Regions from separate parts of the Homo sapiens genome. Here region 1 is linked to region 2. Evidence: fine-mapped expression QTL. A gene starts in region 2. The other region holds a variant in brackets. All regions are shown on one strand. Distances are from middle to middle. Region 1 overlaps COLEC11 (collectin subfamily member 11). Region 2 holds the start of RPS7 (ribosomal protein S7).

Region 1 (9,200 bases), 31 kb after region 2:
TTATTATTATTTTTTTTGAGACAGGGTCTCACTCTGACTGCCCGGGTTGGAGTGCAGTGGTGTGATCACCGCTCACTGCAGCCTCAACTTCCCAGGCTCAGGTGATGCTCCCACTTCAGCCTCTCCAGTAGCTGGGACTACAGGTGCGTGACACTACACCTGGCTGCTTTTTTGTAGAGATGGGGTTTAGCCATGTTGCCCAGGCTGATCTCAAACTCCTGGACTCAAGCAATCTGCTGGCCTTGGCCTTCCAAAGTGCTGGGATTACAGGCGTGAGCCACTGTGACTTTGTGCTTTATAGTACCTTTTTTCCCCCGAGCCATTCTTGGACATCCGGGATGAGAGACGGCTTCAGCTTTAAGGTCTGTAGGTTTTCACAGAGGTAGGATTTAAGTTCTGTCATCTTCGGCAAGTGAAGCTCTCCCACGCGCGTGCCCAAGCCCTGGCTCCGCCCTAACTCTAATCCTCTCTCCCTTCCCGCCCCGCCCCTTCATCAACCCTTGCCTCAGTGGAAACGGACATTTAACATGGAATGTTCATGGCAGTAACCCTAGCCGTCTCCACGTCATCTTTTTGTCTGTGACCATTGGAGGCGATTTTTTTCAGATTTGGGAGAAGGATTTCAAATGACTTCCCTTCGAGCTGCAGGGCTATCTTGGGCATCTTGACCTCCACACATTTCTGGGAGAACTCCTCGTGCAGCAGGACATCAGGTGGCAAAGGTGGGCTCTCGCCAGCCAGAGGCGGGGTCTCTGTAGACTCCATGGGGCCCTGGCTTTCGGGATCTGTCCGGACCACCCTCCCCTGGCTTTTGTAGCAGGGCTCTCACGGGGCTGTTGATGTGGGAAGCCCCCCACCACAGATGGCCTTTCTCTAGCAGCTAAGGTGACCTTCATTTTGGACCTGAGAGGGCCAGCTGGCTTGGAATTGTGGGAGAGAAAATGGAGGGTACCCTGACCCCCAAGCCTTGCAAACCGAACCATTGCTCCACCCACTGGGTCACATAGGAGTCTATAGTGTCTCAGACTCGGAAAGTTGAACCCGAGCCCCTGACTTCACTTCACCTCCTCAGTTCTGTTTCTCAGCAGCTGGCTGCACTGTTCACCTGGCTGCTCAGAACAAAAGCTTTAATCTTTGATTTCTCTCTGTCATTTCCCACATAACTGATCAGCAAAACCTGTCAGCTTTGCTTCCAGACTGCATCCCATACCTCTGTCATCACCTCCACCCACACGTGGGGTCCAGCTGCCATCCTCGCCCGCTGTGCTGTTGTGGTCACCCTGGCTTGGTCTCCTTGCTTCCGTTGCTGTTCCCCTAAGTCCCGTCTCAAGAGCAGGGAGACCCTTTTGTAAAGCCGCTCGCTGATCCAGACCCTCTGTCTCATACAGAGCAACCCCCAAAGCTGCTGGGCGCCGGCTCCTGTCTCCTGTCCTCTGTGCCCACCAGGCCAGCCCACCTCTCCCCGCACTGTCCGGCATGCACTGCCTCAAGGCTTTCTCTGAGCCGCCCTCACCCACCTGTCAGCGAGGCTTCCCTGGCAACCATCCTGAACAGCAGCATGTGTCCCGGCCACTGGACTCTGCCTCACTCTTCCCCACGGCGCTTACCCCTGCCTCTGTCTGTCTCTGTCTGTCTGTCTGTCTGTCTCTTCCAATAGGAATAAAAACATAAATGTTCTTGCTCTACTCCTGGTGCCTAGAGCTGTGCCTGACATTTGGTCGGCATCCACAAATGTTTCTGAACGAATGATTAACCAAACGAAAGGCTGCCAGGAAGTATCCGGAAGCATGGCCTTTGGGATGGACAGATGCTCCTGTGGCTTCCATGCTCTGCGGAGCCCCAGTCCCAGCTCGCCACGGCTCTTTATCAGCTGTGCTCCAGGGCTGCTGTCCGCACTCTGCCCTTCTGGCCTGTCCCTCTCTCCCCTCCTGTCCCTTTCCCTCTGTTTCCCGGGCCTCTCCCTTCAAGTTGAGTAGTTTCCATTGCCCTCTTTGTTTTCCGAGTTTTATTTATTTATTATATTTTATTTTTTTTTGGGACGGAGTCTCGCTGTCATGCAGGCTGGAGTGTAGTGGCGTGATCTCAGGTCACTGCAACCTCCGCCTCCTGGGTTCAAGCAGTTCTCCTGCCTCAGCCTCCCAAGTAGCTGGGATTAGAGGTGCCCGCCACCACACCCAGCTAATTTTTGTATTTTTAGAAGACATGCGGTTTCACCATGTTGTCCAGACTGGTCTCGAACTCCCGACTTTAGGTGATCTGCCCACCTCAGCCTCCCAAAGTGCTGGAATTACAGGTGTGAGCCACTGCGCCTGGTCTTGTTTTCCAAGTTGTAACGCCCTTCACGATGAAGAAACAAAGAGGTCAGCACGTACCCGCCCCTCCTGGGATGGTCAGATGTCCATGACACCCCTCTTCCTATGGGCTCGGCCCCCACCTCCCCAGGCCCCTGGGTTCCTAAGGCCGGGGCTCCTCTCTCCTTACTGATCTCACCGAGGAAGGCCAGGTGCCTGTCTCCTGCCACCTAAGGAGATGTGGGGGCGTGGATTCCTTGTCTGTGAATGGAGCCGCTAAGCTTGGGGCTCCTCAGGCGCCTTGGCTGTTTCCTTTAGCTGTATCTCAGCCTCCCTCCGCTGTGCCCAGCTCTGCAGAGGCTCCATGTCTGTGGCTGGCTATGCTGTGTGGAGACCCCTACTCCACTCTGTGTAGGAATCGTTTGTCCCAGAGATCAGATCGAACTCCTTGGGGTGGGCGAGCCGTAGGCCTTCAATCAAGGCTCACTGACCAGGGCTGGCATGCACTTGGTGCCTGGTGCTGACCCTGGGGCTGCTGTGGAAGCTTCTCAGTGGAGGCTCATGATTGGTGCTTGAGTGAGTGAGGAGCACCCGCCATGGGGGCCCAGACAGCCCTTCCAGGCACCAGGAGGGCTACACCCCTTGCCTCCGAGGCCTGCTCACTGTCACTGGCTGCCCGGCTGTTGCAGTTCCCATCACTGTTTATTCCTTCCTCTGTGTAGGAGTTGGTGTCCTGCCTGCGCTCAGGATGAGGGGGAATCTGGCCCTGGTGGGCGTTCTAATCAGCCTGGCCTTCCTGTCACTGCTGCCATCTGGACATCCTCAGCCGGCTGGCGATGACGCCTGCTCTGTGCAGATCCTCGTCCCTGGCCTCAAAGGTAACCGCTCCCTGGACTCTGGGCTGCTGGGCAGTGGCCTCCGGGCCAGCTGAGAGACTCCCATGCAACTGCGCAGTTCCACGGAAAAGCACAAAGCCCCAGCAAATCTGCTTACCCCATTGGGTCTCAGTTTCCCCATCTGGAAATCAAGGGTTGGGTGACATGATGTCTAAACTGTCTTCGGCCATGGAATTCCTAATTCTGAAGATGGCAATTTATTTGCAACTCAGCCCTCTCCGGGGGGACCTTGCTGGAAGGCACCTGGCTTTCCGTCAGACCCTGCACACATGGCCTCGTGTGATCCTCCCCATGAGATGATCTCATGTGGACCATTTTACAGATAAGGAAATTTGAGGGTCAGAGAAAATTTGCAACTTGTGTTAAGTTCCCAAAGTGTGCTTCTACATTGCTTCCTGAGAGCTCTTAATATTTTATTTTAAAAATTAAAAAATCCCTGGTGGTCTAGTGGTTAGGGGAAAAAAAAAAGACAGGAACTTTTTTTTTTCTTGTTGCTTTGTCTGTAATCTGCTCCCGGATAGAGATAGTTCTGCAGGTGAGGCATGGGTGAGAAAGTCCCTGAGGCTGCGGTATCTGAAGCCTCCAGAGCAGCATCTTCAAGTAAGAAAATGACCAGCTTCTACAAAGCAGAGGCAACAGGTCCCCAAGCCTGGGGGAGCCCGGTGTGAAATGAAAATGTGGGCCCCTTGTTCAAAATTACAGAACCCAAGAAGGGACAGCAGAGTGTGTGCCAGTGTCGGGTGGCAGGGCCGGGGCTGCACCGGCCGCAGCAGAGTCCAGGCCGCCGCTGAGGGGAGTCACGTGGGTGCCGAGGAGGGGGCGGGGGAGTCACGTGGGTGCCGAGGAGGGGGCGGGGGAGTCACGTGGGTGCCGAGGAGGGGGCGGGGGAGTCACGTGGGTGCCGAGGAGGGGGAGGGGAGTCACGTGGGTGCCGAGGAGGGGAGGGGAGTCACGTGGGTGCCGAGGAGGGGAGGGGAGTCACGTGGGTGCTGAGGAGGGGGAGGGGCGGCCACGTGGGTGCTGAGGAGGCGGGGGAGGGGAGTCACGTGGTTGATGAGGGGGAGGGGAGTCACGTGGGTGCTGAGGAGGGGAGGGGAGTCACGTGGGTCCTGAGGAGGGGGAGGGGCACATTGACCTTTTGCAACCTGAATCCGGTCCGCCCCCTCCTCATCCGCGGTCCGCTTGGGCCTTCAGCTTCTC[C/T]TGTGGAGCGTCTGCGGCTCTTTTTATTGAAACATTAGAGAAAAGTAGATTCAAACCCATGATCAAAACAGTCACCACGAAAGACAAACCCTGCTCAGCCCGTGTTGTACAAAATGAAAAGGTCAGCCCTCTCCCGGGGCACAGGGTCCGGACAGCTCGGGGCCACCCTGCCAGGCTGTGCAGCTCTGGCTGGGGGCTTTTTTCCGGCTGTGTTAGCCCTGCTGTTGGAAACCAAGTGGACTGTCCTGCAGCCCAGACAAGCCCAGTGGCCTTTGTGCTTTTAATTGTGATAAATGTACCTGCTTTAGAAAATGTTTAATTATGTTGGAAGCAACTTAAACTGTTGGATGCCTACGGCTCTCTCAGAAGTTTTGGTGAAAGTGGCTTTGGCCCTGACTTTGTGGTAGCGTGTGTGGGTTTGTGAGTGGAACCTTCAGCTTTAGGTTGGAAACGGTGGCTGTGGAGAGCTGGACTTTTGGCTGTGGAGGTCACGTCCCTGCCCAATGTGGTGGGTGCCTCCGAGTCCCTACGGTTGTCTTCCCTGCGCCCTGCCAGGTCAGTAGCCTGCACTGGTGGGGGCCGTGGGGTGGGCTCCAGGGTCCTTTCTGGGCGCCGCCTTTCCCAGGTGCTGTTGGGAGGGTCCTTCCCAGCTGTCCACGTCCTGGGTCCCCTGGATGTGCTGTCATTTCCCACATGGGTAGGGTCCCTTCTCAACCTTTGCAGGCTGGGAAGTAGGGCAGGTCTGAGGGTGCTGTGGGTCAGCCGTCCTGCGTGACGGGTCACCTGTCCTCCCAAGCCTCGGCCTCCTGGTCCGTGAGGTTGGGGAGGCGATGCCAGCTTGGGGCTCTGTGGGGATGCAGTGGTGGCACCAGGAGTGGGCACACAGTGACCGGGGACCCAGCCCCTGCTCCTTGCTCTGGGACAGTGACTTACAAAGCACTAACCCTGTGCAGGCAGCGAGCCCGACCAGGGAGCAGATCAGGTGTCCGTCCAGCACGTGCCCCGCGAGTCCGCAAGCGAGAGGCGAGCACCAGGGGCAAGGAGCGGTTTAGAAGGATTCAGGATACCCAGCATGTCAGGAATTGGGTTACTCAATGGAGAAAATGGTGTGTGCCAGCAGACTTCATCCCTGCCGGCCCCAGCATGTGCCGTAGCCCCCCAGGGTCGCTGGAGGTCAAAGAGGAGAGGCAGCGTGCGGCACAGTGCCAGCTTCTAAGGAAACAGACACACACGCAGTCACCATTCATTAGACAAGCGTCCGTTGAGAATCCACCAGGCAGGCTCAGGGCTGGGATGAAGAAGCCGCGGCCTGTCTCCTCACAGTCCCGCCGTTCGGCCCCGGACACGGGGTGGCATCTGGTCTGAGAAACACAGCACGCGCCGCCCCCCCAACCCCCACAACCCCCTGTGTTTTGGATCCTGAAACCTCTGCCAACTCCACATTTGGCTGGAGAATCTTCCTGAGCACACGAGTCAGGCTGCCGCTGACTGCTGGTGGTGCTTGAGATGACATTTATTTGCCATTCCAGGCCATTTCAGATAATAATAATATATTATCTTTACATTTAGAGGGAATAATATATTGTCTTTACATTTAGAGAGAATGACAACTCCTTTTAATGGGAAAAAAGTCTTTTTTTAATGGTTAAAAAAATGGCTGTAGGTGAGAAAACATTTATCTGTATTAACAAATGTGTTTCCCAGAAATATGAAAGGTCATAGTTCTTCTTATAGGCTTTATCAAATGAATTTTTTTTTTGCTTTTTTTTTTTTTTTGAGATGGAGTTTCTCTCTTGTTGCCCAGGCTGGAGTGCAATGGTGCGACCTTGGCTCACTGCAGCCTCCGCCTCTCAGGTTCAAGTGATTCTCCTGCCTCAGCCTCCCAAGTAGCTGGGACTATAGGCGCGCACCATCAACGCCCGGCTAATTTTTGTATTTTTAGTAGAGACGGGGTTTCACCATGTTATCCAGGCTGGTCTCGAACTCCTGACCTCACGTAATCCACCCGCTTTGGCTTCCCAAAGTGCTGGGATTACAGGTGTGAGCCAACATACCTGGCCTATCAAATTAATTTTAAAATCATTTACTGCCATTCTTTAAAACAACATTGATAAAACCAGTAATGGGGCCTGAATAACATGCGCTGTGGGAGGTTTGCTCTTCTGACACCTGACGGCCTGTCTGTGCCGTCTCCCCTTGTGTAGAACAAGCCAGGCAGGCTGAGGTCCTGGCTTTCTCCTCTCTGACTTCCCATGGCCCTGGGGTGCCGTGGCACTTGTTGTGGCCAGCAGGGATGTGAAGTCGCTGGCACACGAGTTTGTTCAGCTTGTAAGCAGGTGGCGTGACAGTCAAGCACTGTCCACGGATCTTCCTCAACTGGCTATAAATATGTCGAAGTATCTTAGGTTCTCAATAAAATAACTGACATGCGCCTTCCTAGCTGGGTTGGAAATGACCCCAAATACGATCTAGGTAAAAGCTTTTTGTTCGTAGATTTGTACATGATTTGCAGGGAAGCCAAGCAAACAGTAAATGTCAGCCACGTTTTGTTTCTTTGAGCGAGGAGAGAGCTGCGTTGTGGTGATGGTGGAAGTGAGCCAGCAGTTGAAATGTTAGCCTCTCCTGGTAGAGAAATAACTTGTCATTAGAACTTTATGTAGTCAATCATCCTGAAAATGAAAAGGATGTGGGAAAAATGTCATTGTGCTCGCTGGGTCTACATTACAAAATGCATGGAGTGTTGAGTGGGGACGTGTATAGAAATCCTGCTCTGGAGTCATTACCTGCAGGGACATACATCTTTATGACCCCTGGGACCAGTGGACAATGAACACTTCAAACCTTGCCAAATTGGCCAGGTGCAGTGGGTCACGCCTGTGATCCCGGCACTTTGGGAAGCCGAGGTGGGAGGATGACTTGAGCCCAGGAGTTTGAGTCTACCCAGGGCAACAGAGTAAGACCCCATCTCTGGAAAACAAAAAACAAAAACAAAACAAAACAAAAAAACAACCCTGCCAAATTGTGAACAGTGCTTGAAAACAGCCTTGGTTCTTAAGATGCGTGGACAGGGCAAGTCTACAAGGCGGAGGCGACGGGGACCGTGGAGAAACCAGGGCAGCCCCGCCGTGGATGGGAGGCCTCTGTACTCTCTGGTCCTCAGTGCTGTTGGTCCTGAACCAGGGATTAAAATACTTTTTCTCGTGACAACCAGCACGGTGTCTTCCAGGGCATATTTTGTTCAATCCCCATCAGAGCTGAGGAGGACCAGGCTGGGAGGGCTTACGCTGGGTTTTGCACAGGAAGGAAAGCAGTTTCTGACTCCAGGTTTGGGTTCCCCACACTGCAGGCACAGCCGTGAGGCATTTGGGGTGCCTGCTGCCCAGCACTGGCTGAAATGCGCCTGGCCCTGTACAACTACAGACACAGGTCCATTAAGCAGAGCCCTTGGGAGATGGCATGTAAGTGGATTTTGTGATTAGCTGAGAGATATAAAGAAAACGTGTGTTAAATCCTCTTCTTTAGAAAGTCTTGCTGTTTTTAATGACTTATGATTCTTTCTCTCCTGCTTTAGTAACGAGAGTTTGTGGGACACAGTGTAATGTGTGGTGCTTTTCAGGGTCTCTTTCCGTGCCTCCAGTTGTTACTATGAACTATTTTTCTTTGATTTTTTTTTTTTTTTTTTTTTTTTTTTTTTTTTTAGAGACAGGATCTTGCTCTGTCACTCAGGCTGGAGTGCAGTGGTGCACTTATAGCTAACTGCAGCCTGCAACTCCTGGGCTGAAGAGCTCCTCCCACATCAGCTTCCTGAGTGGCTGGGACTACAGGTGCACAGCAACACATCCTGCTATTTTTTTTTTTGAAATGGAGTTTCGCTCTTGTTGCCCAGGCTGCAGTGCAATAGCGTGATCTTGGCTCACTGCAACCTCTGCCTCCTGGGTTCAAGCGATTCTCCTGCCTCAGCCTCCAGAGTAGCTGAGATTATAGGCACCCGCTACCACGCCTGGCTAATTTTTGTATTTTTAGTAGAGACGGGGTTTCACCATGTTGACCAGGCTGGTCTCAAACTCTTGACCTCAGGTGATCCACCCGCCTTGGGCTCCCAAAATGCTGGGATTACAGGTGTGAGCCACCATGCCCAACCCCTGCTAATTTTTTTGTAGAGATGGGGTCTTGCTGTGTTGCCCAGGCTGGTCTCAAACTCCTGCCTTTAAATGATCCTCCTGCCTTGGCCTCCCAAAGTGCCAGGATCACAGGCATGAGCCACTGCACCTGGCCAACCAGTTTTTAAAAATCAGATTAGAGACAGGCAGATGGATGCAGGTGGAGGTTGGTCAGAAGCTATCATGACAAACTTGTCCTTACTGCTTTATCTTTAGGAGGAGAGGAGACGAGGGTGAGTAGTCATGCTGGTTAGTGAGTCTCGCTCTGGGGTTTTGAAGCCTGAGCAAGGTGTGGTAAAGACACACTGGCGTGCCAGCACATCCCAGCTTGGACATGTCACTTGATTCTCGTAGCTGTGTCTTCACCTCTAGAGTGGACATAGTGCCCGCCCCATGTAGGGGGAGAGGTGAAATTATTATGCAAATAAGTGAATGCCGTGTACAAACTCCAGGAGCTTTCTTAAGCAGTATGAGAAGAGCTGGCAGACCTGCTTAGTGTTAATTCTTTACGAGTACTGATGGAGCACCCGCCTTCTTCCTGGTGCTCTGGGGGACCGAGGGTTGGGTGAGATGGAGCTGTGTCTTCTCAGAGTTTTCAGCCAGTGGGAGAAAGAGCAGACTGCTGTCATGTAGGCGGTGTGAAATGCTTTATG
Region 2 (10,514 bases):
GCCGGGCAGAGATGCTCCTCACTTTCCAGACTGGGCAGCCAGGCAGAGGGGCTCCTCACATCGCAGACGATGGGCGGCCAAGCAGAGACGCTCCTCACTTCCCAGACGGGGTGGTGGCCGGGCAGAGGCTGCAATCTCGGCTCTTTGGGAGGCCAAGGCAGGCGGCTGGGAGGTGGTTGTAGCGAGCCGAGATCACGCCACTGCACTCCAGCCTGGGCACCATTGAGCACTGAGTGAACGAGACTCCGTCTGCAATCCCGGCACCTCGGGAGGCCGAGGCTGGCGGATCACTCGCGGCTAGGAGCTGGAGACCAGCCCGGCCAACAGAGCGAAACCCCGTCTCCACCAAAAAAATACAAAAACCAGTCAGGCGTGGCGGTGCGTGCCTGCAATCGCAGGCGCTCGGCAGGCTGAGGCAGGAGAATCAGGCAGGGGGGTTGCAGTGAGCCGAGATGGCAGCAGTACAGTCCAGCTTCGGCTAGGCATCAGAGGGAGACCATGGAAAGAGAGGGAGAGGGAGACCGTGGGGAGAGGGAGAGGGAGAGGGAGAGGGAGAGGGCAAGAATATATATTTTAACAGGTAAACAGATCTTGGCTTTTTAACTGCCACCCTCCAAACCCCCAGCAGTATTCTGTCCTGGGCCAACTATCCAGGGTCTTGTGGTCCCTCCAGGATGACACGGTATTGGAGGTACTGTGATGAGTTTCCTTGGCACTGGAAGGAATCTTTCTTCCTTAATGCTACATCTATTAATTCCTCTTTGTGGCTATCTGGTTTGTTGCTACTCGAAGTGTGGTCCCTGGACCAGTATCATCAGCATTGCCTGTGAGCTAATTAGAAATGCAACATATTGGAGCTGCTGTGGACTGAATGTGTGTGTCCCCCCAAAGTGCACATGTTAAATCCTAACCCCCAAAGTGATGGTCTTTGGGTGGTGATGAGGTCGTGAGAGTGGAGTCCCACGATGGCATGAGTGCCCTTATGAAGGAGGCCCCTGGAGAGCTCCCTCAGCCCTTCTGCAAGGACACAGTGAGAAGAGGCTGTGAACAAGGAAACAGTTCCTCTTCAGACACGGCATTTTCTGCCACCTTGATCTTGGGCTTCCAGTCTCCAGAGAGTGAGAAATGAGCATCTGTTGTCCGTAAGCCACTCTGTCTGTGGCACTCTGTATAGCGGCCCAGATGGACTGAGACAGCGCCCACCTCCACCAAGTCCACAACTGCGGAATCAGCGTCTGCGTCCCACTGCGATCCCTGGGTGACCCGCTGTTTGTACACTGAAGTTGGAGACACACTGATTCTTAGAGAACATTTAACTAATGGATTTAATCCTCTCATTAATGGAAGACTAAGTTGAGGATCTGAAAGGTTAGATGATTGATCCAATTATACTTATGCTTGTTCTATAAAAATAATATTCAGAGACAGCAGGACCTTAAGAATCATTTGTTTGGAAAAATGACCTCTAATTACAAAAATCTGTGGTGGGTGGTGGAGAAGACCAAATCTCAATAGAAAAATGGTTAAATATCTATAGTCCCAGCTACTCGGGAGGCTGAGGTGGGAGGATCGATTGAGCCTAGGAGGTTGAGGCTGCAGCGAGGTACGAATGCGCCACTGAATTCCAGCCTGGGTGACAGTGAGAGACTGTCTCAAAAAAAGAAAAAGAAAAAAGAGGGCAACCCATTTCTCCAGGACTCCTGTCTGCAGCAGAGAGCTCTTCTCTTTCTTTTGCCTATTAAAATTCTGCTCTCAACCTAAAAAAAAAAAAAAGAAAAAGAAAAGAAAAAAGAAAAATGGTTAAAATATGAGCAGAAAACAATCACACAAAAACGTATAAAACGCTTTAAAATGGTCCTTGAACGTATGAAACCCATGGAAGGATGCCAACTTCACTCTGAATTAGAGAATGCAAATTAAATTACATTGCGGTCTCATTTTTCACCTGTCAGATAGAAACAAATTAAAAAGTATGATGACACATTCTGTTGGGAATGCTGTGGGAAAACAAGAATTCCCATATGACGCACAGCGCTTTTCTAAGGGAAGGTGGCAATGCGTAACAAAATTACTTATGCCTTTACCTTTTGAGGCTGAGATCCCACTTCTAGAAATTTATCCCAAAGGGGCTGCTCCAAAAGCATCCTAACGCATATGCCTAAGTTTATTTGTGGGGCATTGTTTAAAATTTCAAAATGTTGAGTATGACTCGGATGCAGTCCAAGTGTCTCCACAGAACACGGGCTGGGTGAAAGTGGTCTGACAGCCCAGCGGAGAGCGACGCCGTGGTGAAAAAGCATGAGGGAGGTCTCCTGAACTGACATGGAGGGATTTCCAGGAAATATGTTTAGGCGAACACAAAATGCAAAAATCAAATCCTGCTTTTGTGTAAGAATGAAGGAGAGGTAAGAAAATATACATTCAAGCAAAAAGAAACCCAGGAAGCATGAACCAGAAAGCAAGGTTGGGTGCAGGAGGGAAGGCAGGGGCCGGTGGAGTGTGGCCTTCTCAAGGGAGTGACCTCCTTAGATGGCTTTGACTTTCAGAAGCAGAGTGTTTCACATATTCAAAAGTCAACAAGGGCTGAGCATGGTGGCTCACACCTGTAATCCCAGCACTTCGGGATGCCAGGGTGGGCAGATCACATGAGGTCAGGAGTTCATGTCACCCAGGTTCAAGCGATTCTCCTGCCTCAGCTTCCCGAGTAGCTGGGATTACAGGCGGGTGGCACCACACCTGGCTAATTTTTGTATTTTTAGTAGAGACAGGGTTTCCCTGTGTTGGCCAGGCTTATCTCCTGACCTCAAGTGATCCACTCACCCTGGGTGGATTATCCCAAAGTGCTGGGATTACAGGTGTGAGCCACTGCGGCCCACCTGCATTGTTATTTTGAATGTATTTTCTCATAGTGTCAGATAAAGCAAGTAATTGTATTTTTGTGTTTAGGAAGCAAGGTTTTTATTACAGGAGAAAAGGAGATGCTATGATAGAATCGAGGATTTCAGAAGGAATTGTTCTGTTAGAAGTGGATTGAGAATGTCAATGTGAACTTGTATCTTTTATGAAAAAATTATTTTAAATGCCATCTTTCTAAGTTCTGTCCGCTGAAACGGCTTATGAGGAGCCCCACGATGCCTCCTGCTGCCAAAATTCTGGTCTCCAGTACTATTTTTCCAGAAAAACAAAAACAAAAGTATCAGCACTTCTAGGAGAAAAGGCTCATTCTATGTCTCAGGCAGAAAATTACAAGAGGAGCCTGGAATATCTTGTGCCAGAAAACAAGATGTTCAGACATTCATAGAAATGACAAGACTCGGCTGCTTATCTAAGAGGGGCCCCTCCTGGTCACAACTGAGACAATTTGAGGATCAAAGGAGAATATTGGCTGAGACTGATTGATGTACAGCAAATCTGAAATGTCCCATGTCCATAATGATACATAAAAGAGTTAACAAAGTGTTCTAAAAGTAAGTGGATTGCATAGATGATATTTCTGTTCATTGTCAATCATGTTGGTATTATCGACTCACTTATTGTATGGTTAAATAATAAAGAAGCTAGTACTAGTAAAACCAGGAAAACAATCTAATGTAATGATTAGTAGGCATTTCCTAACATAAAATTAGTAGAATGACCCTCTAAGTTGTGATTATGATCCTGAAACTACCTATTAAAAATACATGTGCAACCTCTATCAACTTCTATCAGGTTCTAGGTTTTAAAAATCACATTTCTTAGGATCTCATGAGGCTCAAAGCTAAAGAGTTAGAAAGGAAAAGCATTTATGTATATTAACAGCACATTAACAGCTAAAAAGAAAAACTCACATAATCATATTAGTTCATAGAAACAATGCATTTGACATACTCCAACATCCATTCATGATTTTATTTTATTTTTTATTTATATATTTTTTTTGAGATGGAGTCTCGCTGTCACCCAGGCTGGAGTGCAATGGCTCGATCTCGGCTCACTGCAGGCTCCGCCCCCGGCGGTTCACGCCATTCTCCTGCCTCAGCCTCCCGAGTAGCTGGGACTACAGGCGCCCGCCACCTCGCCCAGCTAATTTTTTGTATTTTTAGTAGAGACGGGGTTTCACCGTGTTAGCCAGGATGGTCTCGATCTCCTGACCTCGTGATCCACCCGCCTCGGCCTCCCAAAGTGCTGGGATTACAGGCGTGAGCCACCGTGCCCGGCCCATGATTTTAAAAAAACCTCTCAGAAATAGAAACAGAGGGAACTTCCTGAATTTGATTAAAAATACCTGCAAAATCCTAGAGCTAATATTATACTTAATGGTGAAAGACTGAATGGTTTTCCCCTAAGATGGAGAACAAGGCACGGATGTCCTTGCTCACCACTCCTATTCAACAAAGGACTGGAAACCAGAAATAACTTTAATTTTTTTTGTTCTCAAGTGATAGGTTCACAGAGAAAAAGCTTTACTGGATGAACTTTTAGATTACTACTTTTATAGAGCAGCAGAGATAAAAGCCAGGTCGAAAAGTGCATGTGGAGTAAGGAAATGGACCTAGTTCGACAAAAGGGCTCAGAACGACTGCCCAGATGAGATTGTAGACGCAGCTGTAGTTTACTTTCTATCTGGAAGAAACTTCAAGTTATCCTTAATTTTCCAAGGAGACAGTCACTTACCTTTTAAAAAACATTATTAGAGAAGCACCGGGCGGGAGCATATCTAGCATTAAAAATGTGGGATGAATACCATCTCTGCTTGGTAAAGGTGGTTGGGAATCCTGAGAGAGGGCACCTAGTGTGGCTTCTGCATTTTTCACAGTGCCTGGACCACGGCTGAAAGTAACTCTTGCATGACATTTGACAGAAGAGGAAACCGAAGCTCAGATTAAATTCCCTGTCCACAGCGGGATCATTCGGCACGAGTTCCTCCCTGTCTGGAATGCTCTTCCCCAGCAATAGATCCTGCGGCTCTTCCGTGTCTCAGTCTAATGTCATTCCGTTCCAGGATTCCCGACTTCTTAAAGCATAAATAATCCCTCCCCACCCTCTCATTGTACTGTTATGTAAGTTATTACAATATGTCATTATATATTTAGTCATACTGCTTTAGGTAATGTCTTCTCCACTGAACTGTAAGCTCCATGAGGGCAAGAGTTCAGTCGGTTTTACTTAATAATTAGCACCTAGTACAGTACTAGCATAGAATGAAGGCCTCGCAATTTTTTTTAAATTTATTTTTAGACAGGGTCTTGCGCTGTCGCCCAGGCTGGAGTGCAGTGGTGCAACCTCGGCTCACGGCAGCCTCGACCTTTCGGCTCCAGCGATCCTCCCGCGTCGGCCTCCGGGGTAGCTGGGACTGCAGGCGCGCACCACCATGACTGGCTAATTTTTTTTTTTTTTTTTTTGTAGACATGGGGTCTCGCCATGTTGCCCAGGCTGGTTCCTGAGCTCAAGTGATCCTCCTGCCTCGGCCTCCCAAAGTGCTGGGATTACAGGCGTGAGCCTCAGCGCCCAGCCAAGTTAGCCTTTTTTAAACGTCCTGTCTCCGGAGGTTGCCGAAGTTGGTTTTCTTCGGCCTCCTTCTCTCTCCCAGGCCCAGGGCTGGGACGAGGCCGGTTCCCGCCTGCAACCTGCACTGAAGACGGGAACCTTGGGAGCCGGTACCGGAACGCTCGGAAACGGCACCAAAGTACGAATCCTAGGGCGGAAAAGCGTTACCAAGACACTCGTCCCCAGAGCCGCTTCCTGGGACTCTCTAGCCTCCTACCGCTTCTCAGTGATGTTCCGGTTTCCGCCCTCCTCCTCGCGCTGTTTCCGCCTCTTGCCTTCGGACGCCGGATTTTGACGTGCTCTCGCGAGATTTGGGTCTCTTCCTAAGCCGGCGCTCGGCAAGGTAGGTTGGCGGCCTGCTCTCCGACAGAACTTTTCTTCTTGGGTTGAGGAAAACGCCTTTTGGAGTCAGGCCCTGGAGGGGCGAGCCTTGCTCACAGGGTGGGGATACAGCCGATTACCCGCCCTGTGCTTTCCGATGGCTTCTGCGGGGCGAGCGGGGCCTGGCCGGGGGGTGCGGGCGGGAGGGCGAGCCAGCGGCGCCTGCAGCCCGGGCCGCGTAACGCTGACCGCTGTGCCTTCAGTTCTCCCAGGAGAAAGCCATGTTCAGTTCGAGCGCCAAGATCGTGAAGCCCAATGGCGAGAAGCCGGACGAGTTCGAGTCCGGCATCTCCCAGGTGAGAGGGTTTCCCTGGGGTCTGGGGTGGGGGGAGGCGCCCCGCCCGGGAGGGGAGGCGGCCGCGCGTGTGTTGGGCCCGGGGTGCTCGGACGCGCGCTCAGGGTCGGTCCTGCTGTTCGTTGCTTCTTAGGCTCTTCTGGAGCTGGAGATGAACTCGGACCTCAAGGCTCAGCTCAGGGAGCTGAATATTACGGCAGCTAAGGTAAGCTGGCGCTCCCTCGGCTGGGAGGGAGGTTGCGGCGCGTCTCCCCGCGCAGTGCCTGAGAGGGTTGGACCTGGGTTACGGTTGATGATGACTTGCCGCCTGGCCGCCTAACCTGAACTCAGGTTCGGCCGTGTTGTTTGGGAGTGATACCGCCCAGGTGCGGGGAGTGGGGTTGCAGGTACCCTGCGGCTTAAGCTGTCCACATGCGGGCGGTGGAGAAACGTGGAGTAGGGAGGGCCTGGGCCCATTTCGGACCTTATTTGCCCTTACTTAGTTATAGATACGGCAAAGAGCTGTGGGGAGCTCAGGATGAGATTCTCTCTACCCTTAGCCCGGAGTTGCCGCAAGTGGGGGTGCAGAAGTGGTAGTGATTGGCCTCCTGGCCTGAACAGTCTCCCTTCCTGGAATAAGGAAATGTGAAGGTTGGAGAGAGATGAGAACATTTCCGAAGGATGCATTTATGATTAACTCAAAACTAGTATTAGTTTGTAGTGCAGCTACGGTGTTAGTGATAAGGTCTTCTTATCCTCTAATTTGACCACAACGTTTACTTTCTGAAGCAGTTAACACAGTGGATTTTTGTTTTTTTCTTTAGGAAATTGAAGTTGGTGGTGGTCGGAAAGCTATCATAATCTTTGTTCCCGTTCCTCAACTGAAATCTTTCCAGAAAATCCAAGTCCGGCTAGTACGCGAATTGGAGAAAAAGTTCAGTGGGAAGCATGTCGTCTTTATCGCTCAGGTATCTGTTCTACTGTTGCAGCACGTTTCTGTTTGTGAATTTTGCTAAAATTGCTTGTATTTAGACTGCATTGGTAGTTGGAGTCATGAAAACAATCCTTTTATGAATCCAATTGGGTAGAAAGATAAAGTACAGGCAGAGCGCCGTGGCTTAGGCCTGTAATCCCAGCACGGGGAGGTGGAGGCGGGTGGATCACTGTAGAGACCAGCCTGGGCAACATGGTAAGACCCTGTCTACAAAAAATAGAAAAAATAAGTTTTAAAAAGAAAGATAAAGTACGTTCTTTAATTAAGAGTCGAAACAAGAAGTCTGTAAAGTGACAGACTGCTGTGTTTTGAGTTATGAAAATGATTTCCCATATTTAAATTTCCACAAGTCTAGTGGGTTGCTTACATAGATGATCAAACTAAGAAACCTGTTACAGGCCGGGCCCTGTGGCTCACTCCTGTAATCCCAGCACTTTGGGAGGCTGAGGCAGGCGGATCACGAGGTCAGGAGATCGAGACCATCCTGGCTGACACGGTGAAACCCCGTCTGTACTAAAAAATACAAAAAATTAGCTGGGCGTGGTGGTGGGCGCCTGTAGTCCCAGCTACTCGGGAGGCTGAGGCAGGAGAATCGCGTGAACCCGGGAGGTGGAGCTTGCAGTGAGCCGAGATCCCGCCACTGAACTTCAGCCTGGGCGACAGAGCGAGACTCCATCTCAAAAAAAGAAGAAACCTGTTACAGTTCGGATGGGGGATTGGTGCAAACTGAAGTCTATGGGGAATGAAGTGCCAGGATTGATCTGGAATAAAAGTAGTATTCTGGGTCATAGGCATGGGGAAAGGCGTATCTGGGAGATTTTGTCCACTGGCGTATTAGTAGAGGCTGTGGATTCTGAATGATTTATTCAAGAATCAGGAAGTAACTCCATAGAAGGGTTTGCTCAGTCAATTGTTCGTCTAAGTTGTTTAGCCTTCTCGAACTTTGAACTTACCCTGCCATTCTTCTTGCTTTTAAAGCAGTATGGCAGTTACAGCTTTTTGTCAATTTAAAGTCTTTTTTCATTTTGTTACATGATAATTTTTACCTTACAGAGGAGAATTCTGCCTAAGCCAACTCGAAAAAGCCGTACAAAAAATAAGCAAAAGCGTCCCAGGAGGTGAGTATTTTAGTAGTTTCAGAAATGTGTGTACCCCTCTTATTAACAACTCTTAATTTGTTTAAGTTGTAGTTTATGAAAACAGATGTTCAAGTGGGAATTTTTGAGTAGCAGCATTTGGTTTCCTGTATAGTTGCACATGATACGTTTTAGAATTCTAGATGTAAAACATACATGTATTCATGTAGCCATTGTTTGCCTACTAGGTCAGTGCTGTCACAAGATGAGATGATTTCCTCCGATTATTTGTGCACAGGATAGGAATGATGAGAAGGAAATCATTACTTTAATTCTGTGATATAGCATGCTAGACACAGTTGACATGGGCTTGGATTTATCTTTGATTTTTATTTTTGCTGTGGATTGGAGGTAAAAAAATGTAGGTGGATTTTGGTGATAACATCACAGGTTAAAATATCACTGCAGTTGAAGATGCTGATGGAAAATGATTTATGAACTTGATTGACTTACAGGTTATCTGGCATAAACTCAAATATTGGTAGTTGTCTTCTTGAACTAGATCTTTTGGTATTTTGTTAGTCTCTGATTAGTATGTTGTTTTACAAATGTGAACTATTAAATCCCTGTGGACTCTTCCCTAAGGATGAGTTGAAGAAAAAAAAAATCCTAGTGTTGCCTGTGCCCTCTAACATGTTTAATTTGTATTGTTACTCTCAGTGGATGAGGAAACTGATCCAAGGCTGGGATAATTTGCTGATTGCAGCTAGTACTAGTAGTGCTAAGAATGTTTTTTTTTTAACTCGGTCTTGTTCTGAAAACCACTAGAACACAGTGTTGGGAGTCTGGTAATGTGTTATTGTGTCGAGCTGTGGTATGTGGAAAGGTAGGTGCCAGCTTTTCTAGAACTTGAATTCTATGGCTTAGTACTTTGAAAAACTTTTAAAGGCAGAGTGGCATAAGAATTTAGGATTTTTTTCCCCTAAATCATGACACTTAAAGAGGGTTTTGGAAACTCAGTTCTGAGAACCTCAGTTAGGAAATGAGTATAAGAACAGTCCCAGAGGACTGTCCCTCAAATCCATAGCTTTAGTTTCCCTCAGTACAAACCTCTGTTTTCCAAATTTTCTCAGACAATGGCTTCAGTGTTTCTAGTGGGACCTAGTCTGTACATTGAAAGCCTTCACACTAAGCCTAGCTGGTAGGTCATAGTGATTCTACCACTTTTCCAATCCGGCTTCCTGCTTTCAGATTTATTTTCCCTATTCAGTAGAGCTATCTTTATCTAACTCAGGTTAAATGCTGAAATTGATAGTTTTTGGGTATAGCAGGGTTTTTCCTCTAAAGCGCTCCAGTCCCTGTGGTTTGTGATGATTGAGTTATGGTGCCATTGCTCCCCATTTTAAAAGATTGTAGATGACATTGGAATCTAATTTCCGTATTTGGGTGCTTTCCTAGTATTGTAAGAATATGCTTAATTAATGAGTCGCAATGAATAATCCGTTTGTCTTGATTTGCTTTCTGAAAGGTGATGAGGGTTTTGGGAAATGGACTTTGTTCAGGCTTTTGCCCTTTGTGGCTGTGACATATTAAGATGTTGGCAGTAAAATTGAGAGCCACCAGAAGATGTTAACTGTGTATATGGGCGCTGCCAGATAGGAAATCCAAATGAGTAGACTATAGTGTTATTGTTAGCTACTATGGGGTGAGACGTAGACAGATAACCATATGTAAGGCAGCTCCCTAAATGCTGAAACAAAGAACCGTCTCTTGACTTACTCCTGATGTCTCATGGTACATGGTAGCTGCCCCAAAAGCTTGCAATTAATTGAAACTTCTCATTTGTTAGGTGGCAGGTAGGTAGGTTTTGAACTTGGTAGTGATATTCAGACGAGGAGCAAGATTCCACTGGCAGTTCTGTGATGCTAAGTAAATGATGTGATCATATCCGTGCTTTAGAAAGATTATCTTGACATTGGAAGGGGGTGGTTTTGGAGATGAGCAAGAGTGTTAAAGGTTATTGTAGTGATTTAGTTGAGAAATAATACAAGTGAAAATAAAGATGTATAAAAGTCCTCTAATCTCACATTCCCTAGAGATGGTCACTCATTGCCTTGGTGAGTTTGTAGTTTATCCCAGAGTAACATTTAAAATTGACTGAGCTTTTGAAATAAATCAGTAAGCTATTACCCTATTCTAGGTAGGCAAAGGCTTTAGTTTGGTACGTGAAATATAACAAGCTTATTTGAAAATGAGTGTTAAT

The links. PIP is the estimated chance that this variant, and not a neighbour inherited with it, causes the effect.
Region 1: its variant is fine-mapped to the expression of RPS7 in subcutaneous fat (GTEx, PIP 0.98).

The regions. Positions count from the first base shown.
Region 1 is chr2:3,601,302-3,610,501 of GRCh38, forward strand. It overlaps COLEC11 (collectin subfamily member 11), which reads left to right. Exons shown (of 7, transcript NM_024027.5): 2 at 3,014-3,169. The coding sequence starts at 3,040. Among named protein-coding and RNA genes, the nearest start is that of COLEC11, 11 kb to the left of the region's middle. The variant C/T (reference allele first, on the strand shown) is at 4,388.
Region 2 is chr2:3,569,482-3,579,995 of GRCh38, forward strand. It overlaps RPS7 (ribosomal protein S7), which reads left to right and starts at 5,779. Exons shown (of 7, transcript NM_001011.4): 1 at 5,779-5,869; 2 at 6,111-6,203; 3 at 6,336-6,407; 4 at 7,006-7,149; 5 at 8,229-8,293. The coding sequence starts at 6,129. LOC124907726 (a long non-coding RNA gene) reads right to left here and starts at 5,628. Exons shown (of 2, transcript XR_007086196.1): 1 at 4,654-5,628; 2 at 1-1,757. RefSeq lists enhancers at 1-16, 17-622, 5,332-5,907, 5,908-6,484 and a silencer at 6,036-6,325.